Linked DNA regions of Homo sapiens. The protein of the gene in region 3 interacts with the protein of the main gene of each other region in a pairwise test. Each region holds a gene or a part of one and is shown on either strand. Other genes may lie near its edges.

The links.
Region 1: the proteins of TYSND1 (region 3) and SOD2 come close enough for resonance energy transfer, tested with the Homo sapiens proteins (one large-scale study listed by BioGRID).
Region 2: the proteins of TYSND1 (region 3) and ACSL6 come close enough for resonance energy transfer, tested with the Homo sapiens proteins (one large-scale study listed by BioGRID).

Annotation. Positions count from the first base shown.
Region 1 is NC_000006.12:159,669,191-159,672,918, forward strand, and holds part of SOD2 (superoxide dismutase [Mn], mitochondrial isoform A precursor), read right to left. Parts: 3' UTR 1-3,728. UniProt on the Homo sapiens protein: Destroys superoxide anion radicals which are normally produced within the cells and which are toxic to biological systems.
Region 2 is NC_000005.10:131,969,994-131,973,721, forward strand, and holds part of ACSL6 (long-chain-fatty-acid--CoA ligase 6), read right to left. Parts: intron 3,408-3,728; coding exon 3,273-3,407; intron 2,866-3,272; coding exon 2,731-2,865; intron 1,653-2,730; coding exon 1,557-1,652; intron 208-1,556; coding exon 135-207; intron 1-134. UniProt on the Homo sapiens protein: Catalyzes the conversion of long-chain fatty acids to their active form acyl-CoA for both synthesis of cellular lipids, and degradation via beta-oxidation.
Region 3 is NC_000010.11:70,137,481-70,140,590, forward strand, and holds the end of TYSND1 (peroxisomal leader peptide-processing protease), read right to left. Parts: intron 2,662-3,110; coding exon 2,444-2,661; 3' UTR 501-2,443; downstream 1-500. UniProt on the Homo sapiens protein: Peroxisomal protease that mediates both the removal of the leader peptide from proteins containing a PTS2 target sequence and processes several PTS1-containing proteins.

The DNA.
Region 1 (3,728 bases), on a different chromosome or scaffold from region 3:
GGAAAGAACACTAAGGCAGGAAGTGGGTTCCAGAACTAGTCTGGTGAATGTTCCATGTGCTGATGAAAAGAACGTGTGTTCTGCAGCTATTAGAGTGTTCTGCACCTATTAGAATGTTCTGTAAATGTCAGGTCCATTTGGTGTAAAGTGCAATTTAAATCCAATATTTATTGGTTTTATGTCTAGAAAATCTGTCCAATGCTGAGAGTAGAGTGAAGTCCTCAACTACTATTGTATTAGAGTCTATTTCTCCCTTTAAATCTAATAATATTTGCTTTATATCTGGGTCATCCAGTGTGGGGTACATATATATTTATAATGATAATATCCTCAGGCCTGGCACAGTGGCTCATGCCTATAATCCCAGCACCTTAGGAGGCCAAAGCAGGAGGACTGCTTTGAGACCCAGAGTTTGAGACTAGCCAGGCAACATAGCATAACCCCATCTCTACAAAAAAATTTTCTTAATAAAAAAATATGATTATATCTTGCATGAATTGATCCTTGTTTCATTACATAATGACTTTTCTTTTTACAGTTTTTGACTTAAAGTCTATTTTATCTCATGTAAGTATAGTTATTTCTGCTCTTTTTTGGCTTCCATTTGTATGCAATATCTTTCTCCATACCTTCACTTTTGGCCTGTCTTTACAGGTGAGGTTTCTTGTAGGCAGCATACAGTCGAGTCATGATGGTGGTTTTTAATCCATTCAGTCAATCTATATCTTTTAAGTGGGAGAATTTAATCCATTTACATTCAAAGTTATCATCAATAGAGGTGCAGACTTTTTAAACAAATCTCTTCCCAGGAGAATCACTTGTTTTTTGAGAGACAGGATCTCTTTCACCCAGACTGGAGTGCAGTGTAGACTCACACTGTAATCACAGCTCACTGTAGACTCCAACTCATGACCTCAAGGGATCCTCCCAACTCAGCCTCTCAAGTAGCTGGGACTATAGGGATGTGCCAGCATGCCCAGCTAAATTTTAACTTTCTGTAGAGATGGGGTCTTGCTTTGTTGCCCAGGCTGGTCTCAAACTCCTGGACTCAAGAGATCCTCCTGCGTTGGCCTCCCAAAGCACAGAGATTACAAGTATAGGCCACCACACTCAGCCTTGATAGGTGAAGACTTACTTGTGTCATTTTTTAAATTGTTTTCTGGTAAAAATGCTAACAGTAACTAGGAGCTAAAAGATTCATTTGTTTTTTTCCTCCAGGCATCCACTCTGAGCCCCAGTGAAGAATGGTGGCAGCTGTAAGCACTACCAGCAAGTATACCCTACTGGTTGGAGAACTTTGTTTAAAGGATATAAGTTGTGTGCCTTCTGTAAATGACGATTTAATAATATCAATATCCATTTATCCTCTATAATCATAGTCAATACACAGAGAAAACCAAAAAATGCCAGACTTGGGTTGGGTTCCAAGATGGCCGAATAGGAACAGCTCCAGTCTACAGCTCCCAGCGTGAGCGACGCAGAAGACAGGTGATTTCTGCACTTCCAACTGAGGTACCAGGTTCATCTCACTGGGGCTTGTTGGACAGTGGGTGTAGGACGGTGGGTGCAGCCCACTGAGCATGAGCTGAAGCAGGGCAAGGCATGGCCTCACCCGGGAAGGCAAGGGGTCAGGGAATTCCCTTTCCTAGCCAAGGGAAGCTGTGACAGACGGCACCTGGAAAATTGGGTCACTCCCACCCTAATACTGCGTTTTTCCAATGGTCTTAGCAAACGGCACACCAGGAGATTATATCCTGTGCCTAGCTCGGAGGGTCCCACGCCCATGGAGCCTTGCTCATTGCTAGCACAGCAGTCTGAGATCGAACTGCAAGGTGGCAGTGAGGCTAGGGGAGGGGAGCCCACCATTGCTGAGGCTTCAGTAGGTAAATAAAGCAGCCGGGAAGCTCGAACTAGGTGGAGCCCACTGCAGCTCAAGGAGGCCTGCCTGCCTGCCTCTGTAGACTCCACCTCTGGGGGCATGGCATAGCCGAACAAAAGGCAGCAGAAATCTCTGCAGACTTCAATGTCCCTGTCTGACAGCTTTGAAGAGACCAGTGGTTCTCCCAGCACAGAGTTTGAGATCTGAGAACGGAGAGACTGCCTCCTCAAGTGAGTCCCTGACCCCCGAGTAGCCTAACTGGGAGGCACCCCCAAGTAGGGGCAGACTGACACCCCACATGGCCGGGTACCCCTCTGAGATGAAGCTTCCAGAGGAATGATCAGGCAGCAACATTTGCTGTTCAGCAATATTCGCTGTTCTACAGCCTCCACTGTGATACCCAGGCAAACAGGGTCTGGCGTGGACGTCCAGCAAACTCCAACAGACCTGCAGCTGGCGGTCCTGACTGTTAGAAGGAAAACTAACAAACAGAAAGGACATCCACACCAAAACCCCATCTGCACATCACCATCACCAAAGACCAAAGGTAGATAAAACCACAAAGATGGGGAAAAAACAGAGCAGAAAAGCTGAAAATTCTAAAAATCAGAGCGCCTCTCCCCCTCCAAAGGAACATAGCTCCTTGCCAGCAACAGAACAAAGCTGGACGGAGAATGACTTTGACGAGTTGAGAGAAGAAGGCTTCAGATGATCAAACTTCTCCAAGCTAAAAGAGGAAGTTCGAACCCATCACAAAGAACCTAAAAACCTTGAAAAAAGATTAGACAAATGGCTAACTAGAATAACCAGCATAGAGAAGTCCTTAAATGACCTGATGGAGCTGAAAACCATGGCATGAGAACTACGTGACGAATGCACAAGCTTCAGTAGCCAATTCGATCAACTGGAAGAAAGGTTATCAGTGATTGAAGATCAGATGAATGAAATGAAGTGAGAAGAGAAGTTAAGAGAAAAAAGAGTAAAAAGAAACGAACAAAGCTTCCAAGAAATATGGGACTATGTGAAAAGACCAAATCTACGTCTGATTGGTGTACCTGAAAGTGACGGGGAGAATGGAACCAAGCTGGAAAACACTCTGCAGGATATTATCCAGGAGAACTTCCCCAATCTAGCAAGGGAGGACAACATTCAAATTCAGGAAATACAGAGAACGCCACAAAGATACTCCTCGAGAAGAGCAACTCCAAGACACATAATTGTCAGATTCACCAAAGTTGAAATGAAGGAAAAAATGTTAAGGGCAGCCAGAGAGAAAGGTCGGGTTACCCACAAAGGGAAGCCCATCAGACTAACAGCTGATCTCTCAGCAGAAACTCTACAAGCCAGAAGAGAGTGGGGGTCAATATTCAACGTTCTTGAAGAAAAGAATTTTCAACCCAGAATTTCATATCCAGCCAAACTAAGCTTCATAAGTGAAGGAGAAATAAAATCCTTTACAAACAAGCAAATGCTGAGAGATTTTGTCACCACCAGGCCTGCCTTACAAGAGCTCCTGAAGGAAGCACTAAACATGGAATGGAACAACCAGTATCAGCCACTGCAAAAACATGCCAAATTGTAAAGACCATTGAGGCTAGGAAGAAACTGCATCAACTAACGAGCAAAATAACCAGTGAACATCCTAGTGACAGGATCAAATTCACACATAACAATATTAACCTTAAATGTAAATGGGCTAAATGCTCCAATTAAAAGACACAGACTGGCACACTGGATAAAGAGTCAAGACCCATCAGGGTGCTGTATTCAGGAAACCCATCTCACGTACAGAGACACACACACATAGGCTCAAAATAAAAGGATGGAGGAAGATCTACCAAGCAAACGG
Region 2 (3,728 bases), on a different chromosome or scaffold from region 3:
ATGTTTTTTTCTGTCTCTTTTGCTTTATTCCTAAGTACCCATGCAAATTTACTTTCCATGAGGGAGTTTTAGAGCTGGCTGCTTTTACTCCACAGTGCCTCGCGAGCCAGTCCTATATCTCTAGCCCATCCTACCTGAGGTCCAGTCGCCAGGAGTGGTGAAGGTACATCCAGCTGTGCACTCAGTTTGGCCATAACCTTCATAAACCTTCAAACAAAACACAGAAGCCACACTATGGGCACACACCCTCCAAGAGCTAACTGGCCACCCCTTCCAGACAGCTAACCTCCCACTGAGCGTGTCTGACTGCTTCATGATCAGGGCGATGGAGGGAGGGAGGTGCTCTGGAGGTAGATAACTCCAGGTGAAACTGAACACAGACAACAAGCATGGCCACATTTGCTTGGAAGAAGTGCTATTTTTTTTTTTTTTTTGAGACGGAGTCTCACTCTGTCGCCCAGGCTGGAGTGCAATGGCGTGATCTCCACTCACTGCAAGCTCCACCTCCTGGGTTCACGCCATTCTCCCGCCTCAGCCTCCCGAGTAGCTGGGACTACAGACATGTGCCACCACACGTGGCTAATTTTTTGTATTATTAGTAGAGACGGGGTTTCATCGTGTTAGCCAGGATGGTCTTGATCTCCTGACCTCGTGATCCACCCACCTCGGCCTCCCAAAGTGCTGGGATTATAGGCGTGAGAAGTGCTATTTTTATCACAGACACTTAGTAGATAAGGTTATATAGTTTAGGGTAAAGATTTCTGACCTATTTTCAACCACTGAATCTACTTTTCATCTGGATAATAATGAATTAAAGATAAACATTTTAAAATCTACTCTGTGTTTTATTTTGGCTCCATAAGCTATTCCCCTCCAGAGCCCCACCTGTTTGCATGAATACACCATGCAGGAGTGTCTGCCTTTAGAAGTGGTTAGGCCATGCTGATGTGGAATAGGAGTACAGTGAATAAAGATCAAGGCTTCTAAAGCAGAAAAATTTAAGCACGCACAATTATGAAAAAGATGGGTCTACTTTACTTCAAATCCATCAGCCACAACCACGTTATGATACCCTTCATATGCAGAAACTTAATAAATATGAGCTGAATGGAAAATGAAGAAATAAACTTTTAGAGATGACAAAACATAATAGATCAAATAACACATAAATGGGCTTTCTCCCTTGTTCTCCTTTTCTGGGTTGCAAGATATTTTGCAGGCTGAAGAAGGTAGAGATGCAGTACAGGTATGGTACAGATTCTACCGCACATTGATGATCTGTCTATGGTTTGTCTGATCCCTTTGCCCTTTGTGAAAAACTTCCAAAGGTCCAGATAAAAGAATTTCCCAGAGTGGATAAACCTGGGCTTTCCAGAATGTGGCAATGCCATCCTGGCTTTCACTGGCTCTGAGTTTTTTCCTCCTCAGAGGAGGGAGCTTTTGTCTCACAAAAATCTTGTCCCCCGGTTCTTTCTCTGAGCAGTAGAGGGTATAGTAGTTTTCCTGCCCTAACGAACTTCCTGCTGTTTCCAAGGGAGGACACACAATGACAATACCTGGCACCCTAGAGCTGCCCGGAGAAATCCCAGAACTGTTGGTGATGCTGGGGCTGCTCCAGTAACAATCATCCGCACACACCCACCAAGACTGGCCTGTGGGAAGAAAGAAGAGCTGCCAAATTTTGTGATGTCTGAGATGGTGTCCAGTCCATCTGGGTTTCATCCAAGGTCAACATCCAACAACTGGGTCCTACCTGGATGCTAGGGCTGGGATCAGAAAGAAGGCCTGAGGTTGTACAACACACGAGCTGAGGAAACTCCTTCCCCTTCCTAATGATAAACACAATCAGCTCTGCAGCTCAATCCACCATATGACCAATTCTTTTATGCCTTTTGAGATAAGTACCATCAGTCTGGGTGGCATTCTATAATATTGGTTCTTCTCCCTTCCTTAAAATACACAGCTGTTCCGTCACTCTCCCATCATTGACAAGAATCCAAAACAATTACTTAGGACAATTTCTTCCAATTTCCATTTTAATGGCATTGCCTTTTTTCATGTATAAATCAATACCATGCTTTATTTACTATGTACTGCTGAGGACGAAGAATACTTGAAACACTTTGTTTATGTAAGTTGAGCCAAGATATTTTAAATATTAATTTTCATAACTAAAAATAGAGTAGCAAGAAAAAAATGAATAATGCTACTAATTGACTACAGATTCCTTGGATAATGCAGAGTTTAAAAACTTTTGAGGAGGTACAGAAATGAGTAATTCAAGATTGGCCTGGTGTGGGAGATACTAAAGGGACAGAACACAGAAAAGAAAAAGAAGATTTTGAACCATTTGGCTAGACCCATGCTGCTGGAAAGCCACCATGGCCAGGATTACAGGGAGGGGCAAGAGAACTTCAGGGCCCAGGAGCTTCTCAGTGGAGCACTGACCTGACTACCCAAGGTCAAAGCCACACTGTTGCCTGTGGAGATCAAGGGACCTACTATCCATAGTAGGTTTTCTTCTTGCTCATCTCAAATGTAACGTATCTCCAAAAATCAAAAATGTCTAAGTTTAAAATTTCAATCATAGCTTAAGCTTTGATTTCATGAGCAAATGAGTTACTATTTCACATGATTACAGGGCACTGGGATGAACTTCTCCAGTTCTCCTGCAAGGTCACCCGTTGGATACTTAGGTGTCACTCTATAATCACTTGTTCATTTTCTTACCTGAATCTTATTAAAGAAGAGTTCATCCCAGATACTATCATTCCTGATGATTCCACTCCGGACCTCGGCTTGCTTACGCTTTGCTGCAAACTCCAGGAGCCAGCGCTTTAATGGTGTGTTTGCCTGGCTGAAGATCTGAGGAACATAAGTTGGAAGCAGCTGTCAGAGCCTGAATGTCTCATTTCTAGATATATCCCCCAGGAATAAGGCCCAGACTGGCCAGCAGAGAAGCCATGTTCCATTTTGCCCCTGCAGGAGGTCACTGAATGTGTGACATTGAGCTGAAGGTTAACACTGCCAGGGTCCAGGCATGCTGTGAAGATGGAAGTTCCTGAAAAAAAATCTCTCCCGCAGGGGTATTTGGAGAATAGGAAGAAAACAGGAGAAGGAAGAATGAGAAAGAGTCAGGAACTACAAGAGAGGAGGCAAGTTCCAGGACTTGGCAGTGGAGGCACTGAAAGCCTGCCTGGGGCTCCAGACCCTGTCCAAACAAGCAAATATGCAGCCCCTCAGCCTGGCTGAAGACTCCCTGCAGAACTTACCTTGTCGTACATCCGGTTCAGCAGTCGTGGGACCACAGGGAAGATGGTGGGGCATAGAGCCTTCATGTCATCTGAGAGAAGGCGGATATCTCCCTGGAAGAAGCCAACACGCCCTCCGTGGCAATAGACGACAGACTAGAAAGACAGGACAGGAAGGGAGGAGTCCCTTAGGGTGGTCACTACTGGCGATAGTCCAAAGCTGTCCAAAGTGCTGCCCTACATGGAGGGCACCCATGACCCCCTGACCCAGCTCTGGCTGCTGCCATGAGACACTGATGAATGCCATCTGAGGTGACCCCCACCCCCTCACCTTCCAACCAAGTCCCACTCAGGCACAGGGAGATGAAGCAGAAGATGGAGTGGAATCCTGAGCCTCTGGGAGATGCCAAAGCAGCCATTCTCACTGGCGTGTGCCCCCCTCACCTACTCCCAAACCCTGGACATGGGCCTCCCTGG
Region 3 (3,110 bases):
CTCTCACAGCAAAGTCAGACCTCAGATCTAGGATTCTGCTACCATTAACTTACTGTAGAACTTCTCTTAAACTAGCCATGACCTCTGGACCCATTCCTAATCTGTAAAGGGAGGAACAACCATCCCAGGAGTGTTCTGTGATTGCCCCGTGTTTTAGGAAAAACTCTCCTCAAATCGTGTTTTCCCTCTACTCTCATGCCATCACAATCATCAACACAGAAGACTTCAGTGACCAAATGTGTGTGGGGTTTCCCCACCAAAAGCAGTGGACATCAGCCGGGTGTCCTCTAATTCAGTTCCAACACTATCTACCCAGAGACATTGTCAGACCCCACAGGTTGAGGGTTCAGTCTCCAAGACTGCCCCCCTCAACCACACCAGGCACAAGTCTAGGCCTCCAGAACTTCTGACCAACTGGCTTCAAGTTGAGTTCCCACGACCTCCTTTTTGGGTTCAATTAATTTGCTAGAGTGGATCACAGAGCTCAGAGACACACTTACTTATGTTTACCGGTTTATTATAAAGGATATCGCAAAGGATACAGATGAAGAGATGCACATAGAGCAAGGAATGAGGGAAGGGGAAGGAGTGCAGAGCTTCCGTGCCCTCCCTGGGCACGCCACACTCCAGGAAGTGCCAGGTGTTCAGCTATCCAGAAGCTCTCTGAACCCTGTCCTCTTGGGTTTTTATGGAAGGTTCATGACATCAACATTCCTTCCCCTAGGATTGAGACCCTCTCATGGGAAGGTCTTTAGGACCCACTGTGAAAAAGGTGGGCGAACATTAGTGAAAGGATACCCAGAGGTCAGAGGCCTGTCCCAAGCCCTAACATACCCAGTATTCTAACAAAGACTGGAACAAGGACTATGAGAGTTACGAGTCAGGAATGCTGGATGAAAACCAATATATATCATAACACCACACCCAGCATTGGCACTCAGCACACAGGTGTTAGAAACAAGTTACTCCTAAGCACTCTTCCTGCGTGGCCTCCGCCCACAGCCGCCCCTCACAGGGCTTTCAGCCTGCCAGTAGAAATCACTCGAGGGCCCACACATGCAAGGCCCTGGGCACACGGCACAGTCCTGACTCAAAGAGTTGGCCTCAGCTCCTGGGGGCTGCCCTGGCCTCATTCACCCTTGAACTCCCCAACTGCCACCCACCTTAGGCATTCTTTAAGCATCTGCTGCCAGGTCAAGACCACCACCTTCCGGGACCTGCAAGCCCCACCCAGCTCTGACTGGCACATGACCAGCTATGAGGGCCAGTCTGGCAGGACCGTATCCCGTGAGCTCACACCCTGCTGAGAAAACAGCACAGAAAGGGTGTATTTCTGGGTTGGGCACAGTGGCTCACACCTGTAATCCCAGCACTTTGGGAAGCTGAGGCAGGAGGACTGCTTGAAACCAGAAGGCTGAAGCCAGCACGGGCAACAAAGCAATACCCCATTTCTACAAAAATAAAAAATTAGCCAGGCGTGGTGGTGCGCGACTGTAGTCCCAGCTATTCAGGAGGCTGAGGCAGGAGGTCTCCTGGAGCCCAGGAGTTTGAGGCTGCAGTGAGCTGTGATCGCAACACTGCACTCCAGCCTGGGTGAGAGAGCAAGACCACAGCTCTAAAGAAAAAAAAAAAAAAAAAAGGAAAGGGTGTGTTTCTTTGCCTGGTACTTGCCTATTCCCAGTTCAACTCCTGAAAAAAAGAAACAATTTGATATATAAATACAGAGGTTTTTCAATAGATCATGTTTATTCCCAAGCCCCAACCAGACATGTTCTACCCCTCAAGATCCCTGAGACCCAGGCTGTGGGCTGGAAAATGAAGGCACAGTGTCAAGAGCGCCCCTGTTGGCATATGAAGACCCAGGAGTGCTGACCTTCAGGGATCTGCCTGCACTGCCCATGGGCCTGGCACAGCAGGAGGCACTCCTGTTTCTGTCCCTTCTGTCTCTGGTCTTCAGAGCAAGGTTTCTGCTGAGATGCTAAGGAAGCTGAGTCCTTTGTCAGCCCTGACTCTGACTGAGAGGCAGACAGGAGCCAAGGCCCCATTGAAGCTCCAGGATGACGATGGCCCTCAGGGGAACAGACGCAAAACCAGGCACGGGCCTGCCTTCCAGCTGGAATCTACCTGTCAGGCCCAGAACTTCTGTGCAGTTGGAGTGGGCTCCCCAGAAGGAAAAACAATACAGCTGAGTCTAGTGCTAGGGGACAGAGAACTGGGGGCTCAAGAAAGCACCCCAAAACGGGCTGCCAGGTTAAGGATCCATGGGGCTGAAGAGAAGTTTGCCCCAGAGCCCAAAGCCCAGTCTGCAGTCAGTGGGTGGAGATGAGAGGCAGCCTGGGCCCCTGCAGGGGCTGGGCCCTGAATCCTGAGGCCACCGTCACCTCAACATCACTTCCTACAGCAGAAAAAGGTCACTCTTCTTTCCAAAGGTGGTAACACAGCCTCAGAGCTTGCTCCGCGGGGCCTCTGCCAGGGGCCGCTGCAACCGCCACACCACCCTGACTGGCTCAGCAGCGCGGTCCAGCTCACGGAGGCCACCTAGGTCTTGGGTCTGGCTGTACTGCTGCAGGGCCGGCTGGAGCACCGTGATGGGAATGCTGAAGTTCAGGTGGGGGTAGGTGGCCCCCGTATTATTGTCCCGGGTGTTGCTGGTGATTATGCCTGTTGAGGAGTCAGAGAGCAAAAGAGGATGTGAGCCAGGGGGCAGAAAGGCTGGAGAAGGGAGGAGGACCATCTCCACCCTGGAGCCCCCAGGGCCTGGTAGGGCTGGATACCACCCCACGTGGTGACAGACGCTGAGCTTCTAGACATGAACACCTGCTGCCCACACCCTTTCCTGGCTTTACGTTTTCTCCTTAACACTCTCAAAATCTAACACACTAGATAGTTCACTTATTTCACTTGTTATCTTTCTCTCGACCTAGTGTCAGCTCCATAAGGGCAGGACTTTGAGGTTTTGTTCATGCAGTCTCCCCAGTACCTGAAACAGTGCCTTGTGCCAAGTAGGCGCGCAACAAAGGCTTGTTGAATGAATGAATGAATGAATGAATGAATGAATGAATGAATGAATGAATCAGACCCACAGACATATTTTGTTTGGCCTGCTCGGT